Linked DNA regions of Homo sapiens. The protein of the gene in region 4 purifies or fractionates together with the protein of the main gene of each other region. This does not show direct contact. Each region holds a gene or a part of one and is shown on either strand. Other genes may lie near its edges. The genes, in order: ARB2A, NTSR1, FBLN5 and ZXDB.

Region 1 (3,568 bases), on a different chromosome or scaffold from region 4:
TAGCATTTTACCAGTGGCTTCATAAATGAGCACTTTTTAAAATTAAAAATTAAAATAATTACAGACTTCCACAGAAATAATGAGTGAATAGCTTTTAAACAGTTGAAATCTCTTCCTAGATCACTCAATTATGCAGAGAGATACCGCTTGGAAGTCTCCGGATTCAGGGCCTCAGTCTGATACTTTAACATTGTTAATGATAATTCTTTAGTCTGTAATAGTAGGTCATTGCTATGGTTACTCTACAATGGTGCAACACTTTGCTTTCCCCTTCAGCTATTCGCTGAGACCTGGTAACCACATTTGTTGCCTAGCAACAGTTTTGTGACAGTATCACAATCTAGGAGTTACAACAATAAGGATGCTATGGCTGCTGTCGGCCAGAGAGCAGAAAGCTACAGTCTGTGCCTGACTTAGCTGTGGGAGCTGGCCCTACTAGAGAACCCCTCTCTCTTTATCAGTGCCCTCCCAAGGATTCTCTCTATCCTCCTTTCCTCTGCAGACTGGCCTCATGAACTTGAATTTGAAACTAAGACCCAGTATTAAAGTCATATCCCCCAACTCAGACTAAAAATGAGGTCATTTTATTTGCTTACTCATTTTGGGCAAAATTCATTGTTACTCAATAGGAAGGAGGGATGAGTGTAGGTTTATCTTGTTAAATCCTAAAGTGCTAGGTGGATTTTGACAATTCTTCATAGAATTCTTGGGGGAAAATTATATATATATGCCTGCTTGCATCAATAGGTGTTATAATACATAACATCTAGATATTATTATATTTTTACTGATTTATTCAAATGACAATCTTAAAGGATTCTTTTGAATTTGGAGGCATTTATATTTTCCAAACCTAACTGAGCAGTTCTACATATGCTCAGACATACCTGCTTTAAATGATATTTGCGGGTAGATCTAGGAGGACCAGTTTCTGGATAGGGTTATCAAATGTGTGTCTCTATTCTATAGTGTTTGCAACCCTAGTTTCACTTCAGTAATAACTACACAGTTGCACTTATAATGGTAGGACATTTTAAAATCAATTGTAATTCATTTTGAAAGACCATTCTCAGATGCATACTACGTGGCAACACCCACCCCCAAATACAATAAGCCAAAAAAAAAAAAAAAGGTGTTAATTGTCTCTTTTCGTAACCATTTCCCAAGCTTACAGCCACATTTGGCATTTCCTCCATAGTGATCACACTTACACCTACTAGTGTTACTAAGGCTATGATCAATTTGTAAGCTTTCTCAGGGAATTCCCCTCATAATTCCTCCCACCCCTTGAAACCAATTCAATCTATGAATCTAGAGGGACCTAAGGAGTCAACGGTCTGAAGCAATTTTAACTCCTTTATTTCTTCTTTACGGGTAACAATCCTTCTGAAGGATGAACAGATTTCCCTGGTGATAAAATCACTACAAAAGCTTTTTAGTTTTAGCTTTTGATGACTCTCTGCTTGATTAGTCCTGGACTGAAAAGACCAGAGTCCCTGAGATAACTGAATACTTGTACTGGCTCTCAACATTTACTCTTGTAATTTAAGAGTATAAATAATGAGAATGTGTGCTTCTGTCAGACGAAGGGAAATTGCTAGGAGTAAAGGTAATAAGGTAGGTTAGCAACTGAATTACAGAGAATGGGGTGGAAGGGAGAGAATTCTCCCTAAACTAAGGAATGATAACATGAATATGTAATATAAAAATGTCTTTTCTAAATTTTTGGAAGTAGATTTTAAATGATTTTTAGAATACCATTCAGAAGTTGAATAATTACATGTCTAACTTGGACTGCATATATACATTTCAAGAATATGTTTGGAGACCATTTTCAAAAATTTAGGTCCAAAGTTCAGTGAAAATATTTACAGATGAATATGAAACTCTATCCATGACAATGTTCAGTGAATGGAAACTTTTGAGAGCAGGTTTCTAGTACTTAAAAAATACATCACTTTAGGGGACATTAAGTGGGATGCTTTTTATTACATCAGTACAGAAACACTAGACCATTACATTATTTGTTCATAAAAGGATATAAAAGGTAGAAGTTTAGGTCAATCAAAAAAGCAGCCATTTATTAATAAAATGCAATGATGTAGAAATCACAGGGAAACTAGTTTATTTAGCACTAACCTTGTCATTTGAAGGGGAAAAACATGGTTTTATGGTTAAGGTCTAGTCTTTTCACTACCACCACTTTACCCTTATCAGAAGTCTCTACTTTTCAAACCAATAATTTTCCTAATTTAGAGAGTTTCACAAAATATAAGGAGTAAAATGTTTTTCCACATTAAATATCTGCCAAGTTCTCAAGGAATGATTTTGGTATCATTTAGGAGTGGCAGGCTTGGTCTAACTGGATAATTCACCTTTGGAGTGAATTCAGTTTCCTAGTCTATAACATCAATTCAGTATAAAAGTAAAATGTAAAGGATCACAGCACTTCATTACAAAAAAATACCTTTGCTCAGTTTCAATCAGTGGTTCTTAATGGAGATGATAATGGCCTCTGGAGGCATTTTGGAAATTTGCAGGGATATTTTCGATGGTCAAGATGATTGGAAGGTGTTATTGGTATTTATTGGGAGAAGGACAGGGATAGTGGATATCCTGTAATTTGCAAGGCAGTACAGAATTGTTCTGCATCCCACATGATTTTCAAATGTTCAGCAGCTATTCATGTAGTTGAAAACCTGTTTATAATTATATGGATTAGAATTTAAATATGTTTTACAGATAATCTTAAAATACTTTTTGCATGATTTTAATATATACTGAATTTTCCAGGAATACAACTACCGTGTAAATCGAAAGGGTCATGCATTTTATGTTTTTCAGAGTCTTACCAAGAGTGGTTTACCCTATGAAAAAAATATCATAACTGATGGCACCATGCCCATGGTACTTGAGGTGCCAATAAGCATACCTGTATCAGCCCGCATCTGTAGCTGTCAAATTCATGATGATTCCATGCATAGGACCAAGTATCTGACTACTTTATTATGTCTTCTCATGTAGGTTTGCCTGAGCACTTTAAATATTGAAATCCATATTATTTTATTATGAATTACTTTTATTCCTTCTACATGTTAACTAGAGCATTACAAAGATTAACAATCTCGTAAGTAGGTAGATTATGTTATCTGTAGAATTTATTTCAGGACAGTAAAAGCACGGCATAATATTTGTTATAATAGTAGCTAATCAAAGGTCAGCTTAAATAAAAATGAATAATTATTTCTTACTATATTAGAGATTAATTCTTCCAATAATCTGAACCCTACTCTAGCTATCTCTCTTATCCTTGTACAGAGCAGAAAATACCTATTTTTCATTTTTCTTATGTTTCTTCCACAAATGCCATTTGTCAATGATGTTATTCATTGTGAAGTGACTAAAAGGCAGGGGATCGTCCAATGAAAATACTACCCTGAATATCCTTGACTTATCACTTGTTTTAAAAAATGAACTGTAGCAAATTTTAAAGGAGTGAAAATAGCAAAAGTGGTGAAAAAGATTAGAAACTCTAAGAATCAAGAATGAGACTATAAATCATATGAGA
Region 2 (3,568 bases), on a different chromosome or scaffold from region 4:
CCACGTGATGTGCACAGGTGGCTCTGCCCTCTGCTTCATCTGGGAAACGGGGTTACGGGGTACAGAGGTGGACCCGCATGTCTGCACGTCCTCACCCTGCCGTCTCCCACCTGGCTCCAACAGGCAGGTCTGGTGCCTGGAACAAGGCCAAGGTCACCTCCCTGTCCTGCCCTCTCACCCCCCACAGCCTCAGAGTCACCATCTGAACGGTGATTTCATACGCCAAATTCTTTATTTCCAACATATAGCACCTTAACCTTTTGAAAACTTTTAATTACTAAATTTTTCAAACATGCCAAAAATGTCATCAACACTCACTTTCCATGATTACAGACTTAAGACCAATCTTGTCTCCTCTGTAGCCCTCCCACAGCCCCTTCCCCCAGATCACGCTTCAGTAAATCTGAGACATTGCATCATTTTGTCTGTAAACATTTCCGCATGTACCTCTAAGAGAGCAGGACCATTTTGAAAACCATACCCACAACAGCTCTGGACAACAAGAATTTGTAGCTATTCACTACCTAGGCTTTTTTGCTGTTTCTTGGCAGGAAGAATGATCAGCTTTGGTGCCGGCTTTCTGCGACAGGTTGACTTGTCCGAGTCTTTGCTAAGAAACCAGGCCACCGTCTCCGATTCCCTCACTGTTTGTAGAACAGAACGAGTTGTTTATTTGGAGCTGTTTCTTGTGGTCTGGGTTTTGCTGGCTGCATCCTAATGGTACATTTGTCCCTGTTCCTCTGTCCCTGGTGTGTCCTGTGTGTTGGATCAGGGGCTCCATGAGATTCAGATTCAATGGCTTTGCTCCAAGGATGCCACGAGGCTGTGTGCACACCAGGGCTCACCTCACACCTAACTCTCTCCCCTTCGTGACCCCAGCAGCTGTCAAGAATCCATGCCTACATCCATTGATTTATGAGGATTGCACCTGATGGGTGGTATTCTGACCATCCTGCTCCTTCTTCACTTATTGATGAACATTTCTGGGCTGAGACACTGCCTTTTATCTACTCTTGGGTTATTCTAAAGTACCGTTTGAATAGAAAAGGCAGGAAAAATACTCCATTCCTTTCCTCTAAAGGGTCATGGGCTCAGACTGGAGGAAGTGTGTGACTCTTGGCCCCACACCAACAGCCCTCTATGCCCTGCGCTGCAGGTGAGGACACTGTGGCCGCTACGGCCAGAGCCAGAGCTGCCCACAGCTGCGTGGCGTGGGTCCCCTTCCCGTCCTCACGGGAGGTCAGAGTGGAGCAGGCTGTTCCTAAGGACCCCTTGAAGAACTTCTTCTGCAACTTTTTTTTTCTTTGAGACAGTTGTCACCCAGGCTGGAGTGCAGTGGTGTGATCTTGGCTCACTGCAACCTCCGCCTCCCAAGCTCAAGCGATTCTCCTGCCTCAGCCTCCCAAGTAGCTGGGATTACAGGCATCCTTCACGACGCCCAGCTAATTTTTGTATTTTTAGTAGAGATGGGTTTTCGCCATGTTGGCCAGGCTGGGCTTGAACTCCTGACCTCAGGTGATCCGCCTGCCTCAGCCTCCCAAAGTGCTGGGATTACAGGTGTGAGCCACCACGCCCGGCCTTCTGCAACTTTCTAACTTGAAAAAGTTCCTACTGCAGAACAGTTGCAGGAAGAATGCCCAGGACACTCAGCTGCCTGTGGCAGGGCTGCAGCCCAATGCCGCATGACCCGCAAGCAGTCTCCTCCCTTGATTCACTGTCTGCTTGCTCTCCTTCCATTTGGCCACACCTTTCTTTCTGAATGATTTGAGAATAAGTTGCAGACTCCACACTCTAAACACCTCTGTATCCTTCCTAAGAACAAGGATGCTGCCTGTGGAGGTTGCTGGGCACAGCCTGGGGCACGGGACAGGAGCCCTGAAATAATCCATGGCCAGATTTCACTGGAACCTGTCTCCTTCCCTGTCTCAGCCGCCTCTCCTTTCCCGGAATTCTGCCAGCCCTGAACGGCTGGGGTGTTTGCCAAGTCGCCCTGTGATCTGTCTGCTCCTGGACGCCTCTGGAGCAGGGGTTGTAGGACACCAGCGCCTCCTGCACAAATTGAGGCCCCTGTCTGCCCCTGGGAGGGAGCAGGTGCCCTCTGAGTTGGGGTCTAACCCAGCGAAGAGCACTGCTGTTTGTACTCAATATGAAGAAGGCTTTCAGAAAAAACAAGGAGGAGGCAGGGAGGCTGAGCCTGCAGGAGCAGGACTCCCTTGGTGCAGAAAATGGCAATGATGAAAGGAGTCCTCACGGCTGCTCAGGAGGGTCTAATGGACTCGTGCCTGTGAGGCTGGGAGGGTTTGCTTTCGTGTGTGGCCATAGTCAGGGGCGGGTCTCTAAAACTGTTTCAAAGGCTGCAGCCACCTCATCTGATTTGAATCGGACACCTGAAGTCCCAGGCCCCTGCCACTGTGGGCCCCTGGACACACACATGTGTGCACACGTTCAGTATACACGCCATGGACAGATGACAGATAAGCATGGGACTCTGATGACCCACCATCTGGGCCATCAGCCCTGAGCCCTGCCACACAGATCGTGTGCCACTGGGACCCTGTCACAGCCGAGGTCAAAGCTGAGCTGGAGGTTGGGCCTGGGCCATGGGGGACCATCCAAGAAGCAAGGGCCATCTGCCCGTGTGGGGCCACGTGTGCGGGTGGGTTAGAGGATGGGTAGGACAGTCCAGGGGAACCCAGGGGCACCCGTAGGTCCCTGAGCCCCCAGCTCCTCCTCCCAGTCACCCTGCTGGCACCAGGGCCAGGTCTGGGGCCTTTGGGAGGGTCCTGGGCACCAGGTCCTGTCTGCTGACCTGAGAGCCCTGCCCACTCCACCATCAACTCCCAGTCCCAGCTACACACTAGGAAAATGCCCAGCTGGCTTCAGGGAGGATTATTGTAAGTTGCTCCAAAGTGTTATCACTGAACCACCTCATTTCTAAACACAATTTCTGTTTGCAAGTGCCCAGGCCAAAATTTCGTAGGAGACGCTGGGGCAGGAAAGGACCCCTGTTTTGGAAAGAGGGGCCATTTGATTGGCCACTGCCCCAACACTTCCAAACATGGTCACTGAGAGGGAGACACTTAGCTCAGGGTATCCAGCCCCTCTTCAGCCAGACATCACCATCTGAAAACCGTGGATGTTTGCCCAGATCTGCCAATGGCCCAGAAGCCCACGTGGGGACCGTAAACCCCCTAATTCCGGGGAAACCTTTCATAAAATGGCAAATGGCGGGGCAGGGGTCAGGGGAAGCCAAGGCCTCTCCTACGAGGAATGTTCTTTTCAAGCACACAGAGCAGCTGGCATCGGGGCCCTGGAAAGCCCCAGGTCATCAGCATCGGATGGAGGAGCACCCTTGTAATCAGCTGCTCCCAGGCACGCAGCTGAGCCCTTTAAAGAAAAATGGAAACTACGTTCTCCAAGGGTGCCTTCAGCAACGCTCGGCCAGCATGGCGTCTGCAGGGCGTGGGGCCGCTGTCCTACGGTTGATACGTCACAGGCCTCTGCGATTGGACGAGTGCCTGTGGCCGGCCGTAGCGTGACTTGGCCAAATCTGCCTCGCAGCCTCTGA
Region 3 (2,960 bases), on a different chromosome or scaffold from region 4:
GAGGCTGAGGCACAAGAATTGCTTGAACCTGGGGGGCAGAGGTTGCAGTGAATAGAGATCGCACCACTATACTCCACCCTGGACAACGGCGAGACTCCAGCTAAAAAAAAAAAAAAAAATTCTCATAAAACCCTGAAAGGCCTTGCCACTCAAAGTGTGGTCCCTGGACCAGCAGCATGGGCATCACCAGGGAGCTTCTTATAAATGCAGAATCTCAGGGCTAGGATCTACTGAGCCAGAATCTGTGGCTTAACACAATCCCCAGGGCTTTGTGTGCACATTAAGTATTGAGAAATATTGATCTAAAAGCACAGGACCCAGGTGGGGGGGCCCTGGCTGTCCTTGTCTAAGTGCTGTATGAAAGGTATGACTCATTACTTCCCCGTTTTATAAGTAAGCAAACTGAGGTCCCATGAGGTTAAATAATTGCTTAGGGTTACCCAGCTAGTCTTGGGCAGAACCAAGGGCTTCCATTCAGGTATTTCTGACCCCAAGCCCCAGGCTTTTTTCACTGCACAGCAGGTATCAGAAGAGGCTGATGTGTGTTTCACTTCTTCCTAGCACCCACCTAATGAGAGATGCTCGCGGTCAGTGCAAGGGACAGATATTGGCACTGTTAGAGGAAACAGTGTGAAGAAGAAAAGGGATGGGCTGGACAATCACTTCCCATACACTGCAGAGCCCAGCCCTGTGCCCAGAAGCTGCAAGCAACAGTCTCTGCAAAATAAAGGAACCTAGCTGGTTTAAAGCTACACTAGATGTTTTATCTGTCTCCATAAAAGGAGGGCGCCCCATAAAGTTCTGAACATCCCCAAGAGCCACCACAAGTAAGACAAGGGTGGGGCTGGCAGACAGGTGCAGGCCAGGCGCTGGGACCTCCCCTATCCATGAGGCTATCGGCAGCCTGACAGCCACACAATTTCCTCTTGGCACTGGTTCCTCCTGTTCCCGTCAGCATCCACGTTATTGGCACCTCCTCACGCAGATTTCTTGGACTTCCTTGTCAGCCCTTACGAAACCTGAGCCCTGGGCCAGGGCTTCAGAGGGTAAAGCCACACAAGGAAATGCCTGCAGCCTTTACATATACAAATATCTCACCAGCTTTCACTGCGTGAACAAAGACCAAGAGTTGAGAACCCTGAGCTAGGGACAGCCCTCCAGAGGGAGATCTGCAGAGCCCAAGGTCTGGAAGGGAGAAGGGGGCAAGTGCAAACTTCCAAGTTGTTCCTTTGGGCTCTCCTGGTAAATGTCTCCTGAGTACGAAAGAATCCTCAACTATCCCATTTGAAATCCTAGACTCTCCCATTTGGAAGTAACTGCAGAAGCTGGTGAGTCCGGCCTCCACCTGGGTCCACCCTACCCACAAGCACCTGGAAGAGCTCAAGTACCTGCCACAAGAGCTGAGGACAGCCACCTCCACATTCGGCTTTTAGGGCAGAGCCAGGGCATTAATGAAATAAACCCCTGAGAGCCCGTGGGCATTAGTAGGCTTGGTGGTGCGAAAAGATGAGGAGGAGGAGGATGGTGGCGACAGTGATGACGGTGGTGGTTATGATGCCAGGCATCTGGCTACAACCTTTCCTACACCTCTTAATTAATCTTCACAACCCTATGCTCTAAGTAGGTTAGGGATACTACATAAGGCCACCAAACTACTGCATGGTACTAGACTTTATGGCTCCAAAAATCATGCTTCTAACCACTACACTCTCTGATAAGGTCTCTGTACCTCTCCATTTACTCACCATCCCATGGGTCTTGACTTGACTTGAGAATCGCCACTTTGTGTTGTGTTTGCTAGGTTGTTTTCCCCCTCTCCGCTAAGGTGTGTGTGGGTTCCTCCAGGGCAGAGACCACATCCTGTTTGTTTCTCAACGCTCAGTGCCTGACTTGAAGCCTCATATGCAGTGGTGCTGAATGCACGCTGGTAACGGAAGAATGCACACGAATGACTGAACGCCAGTGGACTTGACCACGCTGGGAGTCGGCTGCCAACAGCCCACCAGCTGTGTGTCTTCTTGGCCCTGATCCCAAACACACTCAGGTTTATTCTAATCAACTTGTGGGATGGCATGGTCTGACCTGTGGCAAGCAGCCACGCTGTAGCAGGCCAGCTTCCATGGGCCCTGTCACTTGATCCACGTGTGTCATGGAGTAAGTGCACTTTGGCACAGTCTGAACCCCATGACCTTGCTCCTTCTTCTGGCCCTAATTATGACCCCCAAGCCACCTGGCCAAAGCCAATCATCAGTCCTCTTTCTAGGGCTCAGTGAGAGACAGGCAGCCAATAAGGCTTATGAATGGGCTTGTGTGTGTGTGTACACGTACGCATGTGGGCATAAGTGTGTGCATGTGTGCATGCAAGTGTGTGTGTGTGGTTTGCCTGCGGGGTGAGATGAAGCTCCTCCCATGTGGTTATAATCAAATCAATGAATCTCAGGGTGTGAGAGCCTGGATGGCCATCCAGCCCCACCTCCCACACGATGCTCCAGTCCCCTGGGTAGCATTCCCAAGCTCTCCATGGCCCAGCAGCTCCCAGCCTCCTTGCAGCAGTAGCAGCAACAGTAGCAGTGGCCACAACAGTATCTATACAATCATAACTGCTATTTCTGGAATACTTTCTATTGTAACTGGATGTTAGACTTTTCTTGTGATCTCCATTTCATCTGAGACCCCAAAGCTGGAAGAGTAGGTAAAGCATACCTCCCCATTCTGAAGAAAAGTATAACAGCACAGATTTTTGGTGCCAGGCTGCTTAGGTTCAAATCCTGCCCTGGTGCTTATTAGTTGTGAGACTAGTCGGGCAGGTTGCTTAGCTCTGTGCCTCAGTGCTCTCATCTGTAAAATCTGGACGATAAAACCATCCTATATCATAGGATTCTTGTGAAGATTAAAGGGTTACTGTATAGAAAGCACTTAGAATAGTGTCTGGCACATACAGGCACTATACACGGCTTGCT
Region 4 (4,280 bases):
TCTGGAAGGCTGGCAGTGGTCTATTGCTTGACCTTGGTCCTGGTTACACAGGTGTCTGCTTTTGTAAAATAATCTAAACGATACAAATATGTTTTATGCACTCTTCTATACCTCAGATTTGAAAAATGCTTCCACCAGAAAAAGTAATAGAAAGAAAAGTATGTGGAGTAGACATTTTGATGAGGTTCAAATAGTTATGGATGAATAGCTTGATTTTCAAGAGACCAAGTGTCCACTGTCATTAAAAGAGGGCGAGAGAGCTGGGAGTATTTAAACAACAGGTTACACCCCGCTCCCCCACCACCACCAATCTAGTCATTACTCTAAGCTTTCTTATCTCAGATATTTCACCCTATATTTGTGTCAATTCCCAACTCAGTCGTAACGGACAAAATGAAGGATTGTCATCATCATTAATAAGATCATTAGGCACCACAGGCCCAGCAAGCCTGGGCCACCACACTTAAATGTGAACAGGTACACCAGGTTGATTGGACAAGATCGTCTGTGCCTTTTACTTGGCAGAATCCATTGCAGTGACTCAGGATTTAACCTAAACACATTTAACTGAAACTCCTGCCCAGAGACCTCCACGTGCTGGAGAAGGCAGAGTAAACTGAGGAATGAATGCCCTCATTGTGCTGTGAGAGCAGACATGAAATTTATCACAGTACAACCGATGGTGGAAGGGCAAAAGTTGGTTTAGGTTGTGCACTGTATAGGGAGAAGCCAGGAGAAGGTTGGGTTTTTTCCAGATTTCAGTGTAAATTGTTTCATCCTCCAGACTTTGAATTTCTAGGCTGAAGAGTGCTAACCTGTTTTGGCCGCATCTCTCACTCATTCTAATGTCTGTATCAGCAAGACAAAATTTGAACTATGCGGCAAATTGTACCGAAGACTTTGCTCAAGATAATTGTGAATATGGAAGTTGTCCCGCGGGGAGGTGGGAAGGGGAAGGACATTTTCAGCAGAACTGCCAGCGCTATGGTGGTTTAATGCTGACACAGAGACAGTTTTTTCTCTCAGGAATTGTCTTTCATCCATCAGTCCAGCCAGCCAGCCAGCCAGCAAATTTTAACACACAGAAAGTACGAAGCAACATATCTAACACTGGGAGGGGCTGGGGTGTGTTTATTTGGGTATATACAATGAGTCATGGATTAAAATTGCTTCCAGCGGATAGATACCTAGGTGTTCCACAGCATTACTGAACAAGCTGTCGTCATTTCCCCATTACCTCAGAAGACCCCCTTAATTACTTACTTATATTAACTGTAGAACGTATTTATGCATACCAGGCTCTACCTCTGGGCTTTCTATTCTGTTCCAGAGACCCAGTACCAGAATATTTAAATCACTGTGGCGTTAAATACGTTTTAATATCTGATAGGGCCAGTTTCTGCGCATTGCACATTTTTTTTTCCCCTTTCAGGAACGTGTTCAGGCCCGCGGCAGGGGGCGGGATCGCGCCTCCTCCTCGGCTCTGGTTCCAGCCGAGCCTCTCGGACGCAGAGATGGAAATCCCGAAGCTGCTCCCGGCTCGCGGGACACTACAGGGCGGCGGCGGCGGCGGTATCCCCGCGGGTGGCGGCCGAGTCCACCGAGGCCCTGACTCGCCGGCTGGCCAGGTCCCCACGCGCCGCCTCCTGCTGCTCCGGGGCCCCCAAGATGGCGGGCCCGGGCGGCGGCGCGAGGAGGCCAGCACGGCATCACGGGGCCCTGGCCCAAGCCTGTTGGCGCCGAGGACCGATCAACCTAGCGGCGGCGGCGGCGGCGGCGGCGACGACTTCTTCCTGGTGCTGCTTGACCCGGTGGGTGGCGACGTGGAGACCGCGGGCTCCGGTCAGGCCGCAGGGCCTGTGTTGAGGGAGGAGGCCGAGGAGGGCCCGGGGCTCCAGGGGGGCGAGAGCGGCGCGAATCCCGCGGGGCCCACTGCGCTAGGCCCCCGCTGCCTGTCCGCGGTTCCCACTCCGGCCCCGATCTCCGCCCCCGGCCCCGCCGCGGCCTTCGCGGGCACAGTCACTATCCACAACCAGGACCTGCTGTTGCGCTTTGAGAACGGCGTCCTCACCCTGGCCACGCCCCCACCACACGCCTGGGAGCCAGGGGCCGCTCCTGCCCAGCAGCCCGGGTGTCTGATCGCCCCGCAAGCTGGGTTCCCGCATGCCGCGCACCCGGGTGACTGCCCAGAGCTGCCGCCAGACCTCCTGCTAGCTGAGCCGGCCGAACCCGCGCCAGCTCCGGCGCCTGAGGAGGAGGCGGAGGGCCCGGCCGCCGCCCTGGGCCCCCGCGGACCGCTGGGCTCCGGCCCAGGCGTGGTGCTGTACTTGTGCCCCGAGGCGCAGTGCGGGCAAACCTTCGCCAAGAAGCACCAGCTGAAGGTGCACCTGCTGACGCACAGCAGCAGCCAGGGCCAGAGGCCCTTCAAATGCCCCCTGGGTGGCTGCGGCTGGACCTTCACCACCTCTTACAAGCTCAAGAGGCACCTGCAGTCGCACGACAAACTGCGGCCCTTTGGCTGCCCGGCAGAGGGCTGTGGCAAGAGCTTCACCACAGTGTACAACCTCAAGGCGCACATGAAGGGCCATGAGCAGGAGAACTCATTCAAATGCGAGGTGTGCGAGGAGAGCTTCCCCACGCAGGCCAAACTCAGCGCCCACCAGCGCAGCCACTTCGAACCGGAGAGGCCTTACCAGTGCGCGTTTTCTGGCTGCAAGAAGACATTTATCACAGTGAGTGCTCTGTTTTCCCATAACCGCGCCCATTTCAGGGAACAGGAACTGTTTTCCTGCTCTTTTCCTGGCTGCAGCAAACAATATGACAAGGCTTGTAGGCTGAAAATTCACCTGCGGAGTCACACCGGCGAGAGACCTTTCCTTTGTGACTTTGATGGCTGTGGCTGGAACTTCACTAGCATGTCCAAACTCTTAAGGCACAAAAGAAAGCACGACGATGACCGGAGGTTCATGTGCCCTGTGGAAGGCTGTGGGAAATCTTTCACGAGGGCGGAACATCTGAAAGGCCACAGCATAACCCACCTGGGCACAAAGCCTTTCGTGTGTCCTGTGGCAGGCTGCTGTGCCAGGTTCTCTGCTCGCAGTAGCCTCTACATTCACTCCAAGAAACACCTGCAGGATGTGGACACTTGGAAAAGCCGTTGCCCGATCTCCTCTTGTAATAAACTCTTCACATCCAAGCACAGCATGAAGACGCACATGGTTAAAAGGCATAAGGTGGGCCAGGATCTCTTAGCTCAGCTAGAAGCAGCAAATTCTCTCACACCCAGCAGTGAACTTACCAGCCAGAGACAGAATGATCTCAGTGATGCAGAGATAGTGTCTCTCTTCTCTGATGTACCTGACAGTACTTCTGCTGCATTGCTGGACACAGCATTGGTGAACTCTGGAATCTTGACTATTGATGTGGCTTCTGTGAGCTCGACTCTGGCAGGGCACCTCCCTGCTAATAATAATAATTCCGTAGGGCAGGCTGTGGACCCTCCGTCCTTGATGGCCACCAGCGACCCTCCTCAAAGTCTGGATACCTCTCTCTTTTTTGGAACGGCGGCCACTGGTTTTCAGCAGAGCTCCTTAAATATGGATGAGGTCTCAAGTGTAAGTGTGGGGCCATTGGGATCTCTGGACTCTTTGGCCATGAAAAACTCCAGTCCAGAGCCTCAGGCTTTGACACCCAGCAGTAAGCTAACAGTGGACACAGATGCTCTGACTCCTTCGAGCACCCTTTGTGAAAACAGTGTCTCAGAACTACTGACACCAACCAAAGCGGAGTGGAACGTACATCCTGACTCTGACTTCTTTGGACAGGAGGGAGAAACCCAGTTTGGATTCCCCAATGCAGCAGGAAACCATGGTTCTCAGAAAGAAACAGATCTTATCACTGTGACTGGCAGCTCATTTTTGGTATGAACCAACTCTATTCATTCCTCATCATGTGGCTTACTTTTATTACAGTCAATTTTGAGGATATTCTGGACTAAATATTTAAGTGCAGTCATTTCTTTTTGGTTTGCAAAAAGAGCACAGCCCTGGACTACAAGTTTGGAGATTTAAATTCTGATCTTGAGTTTGGAACTGACAAGTTGTGTGACCCTGAGCAAGTCAGTTAACCTATCTGAGCCTTAATTTCCTTATTTATAAATTGAGGTGGTTTGAATAGATTGCTTTTAAGGTCTTTCTGCTCTGTGATTCCTTGATAATACATTTCTTTCCTTGAAAAATATGAGGACGTTTTTCAGTGATGTGGCATGCGTTTTTTTTTAA

Evidence for each region.
Region 1: the proteins of ZXDB (region 4) and ARB2A purify together in Homo sapiens (affinity purification with mass spectrometry; one large-scale study listed by BioGRID and IntAct). This does not show direct contact.
Region 2: the proteins of ZXDB (region 4) and NTSR1 purify together in Homo sapiens (affinity purification with mass spectrometry; one large-scale study listed by BioGRID and IntAct). This does not show direct contact.
Region 3: the proteins of ZXDB (region 4) and FBLN5 purify together in Homo sapiens (affinity purification with mass spectrometry; one large-scale study listed by BioGRID and IntAct). This does not show direct contact.

Annotation. Positions count from the first base shown.
Region 1 is NC_000005.10:93,622,140-93,625,707, forward strand, and holds part of ARB2A (cotranscriptional regulator ARB2A isoform 1 precursor), read right to left. Parts: intron 1-3,568. UniProt on the Homo sapiens protein: Plays a role in the regulation of alternative splicing, by interacting with AGO2 and CHD7. Seems to be required for stabilizing protein-protein interactions at the chromatin-spliceosome interface. May have hydrolase activity.
Region 2 is NC_000020.11:62,711,829-62,715,396, reverse strand, and holds part of NTSR1 (neurotensin receptor type 1), read right to left. Parts: intron 1-3,568. UniProt on the Homo sapiens protein: G-protein coupled receptor for the tridecapeptide neurotensin (NTS). Signaling is effected via G proteins that activate a phosphatidylinositol-calcium second messenger system.
Region 3 is NC_000014.9:91,871,752-91,874,711, forward strand, and holds part of FBLN5 (fibulin-5 isoform 1 precursor), read right to left. Parts: intron 1,925-2,960; coding exon of another isoform or gene 1,746-1,924; intron 1-1,745. UniProt on the Homo sapiens protein: Essential for elastic fiber formation, is involved in the assembly of continuous elastin (ELN) polymer and promotes the interaction of microfibrils and ELN. Stabilizes and organizes elastic fibers in the skin, lung and vasculature.
Region 4 is NC_000023.11:57,590,535-57,594,814, forward strand, and holds the start of ZXDB (zinc finger X-linked protein ZXDB), read left to right. Parts: upstream 1-1,476; 5' UTR 1,477-1,514; coding exon 1,515-3,926; 3' UTR 3,927-4,280. UniProt on the Homo sapiens protein: Cooperates with CIITA to promote transcription of MHC class I and MHC class II genes.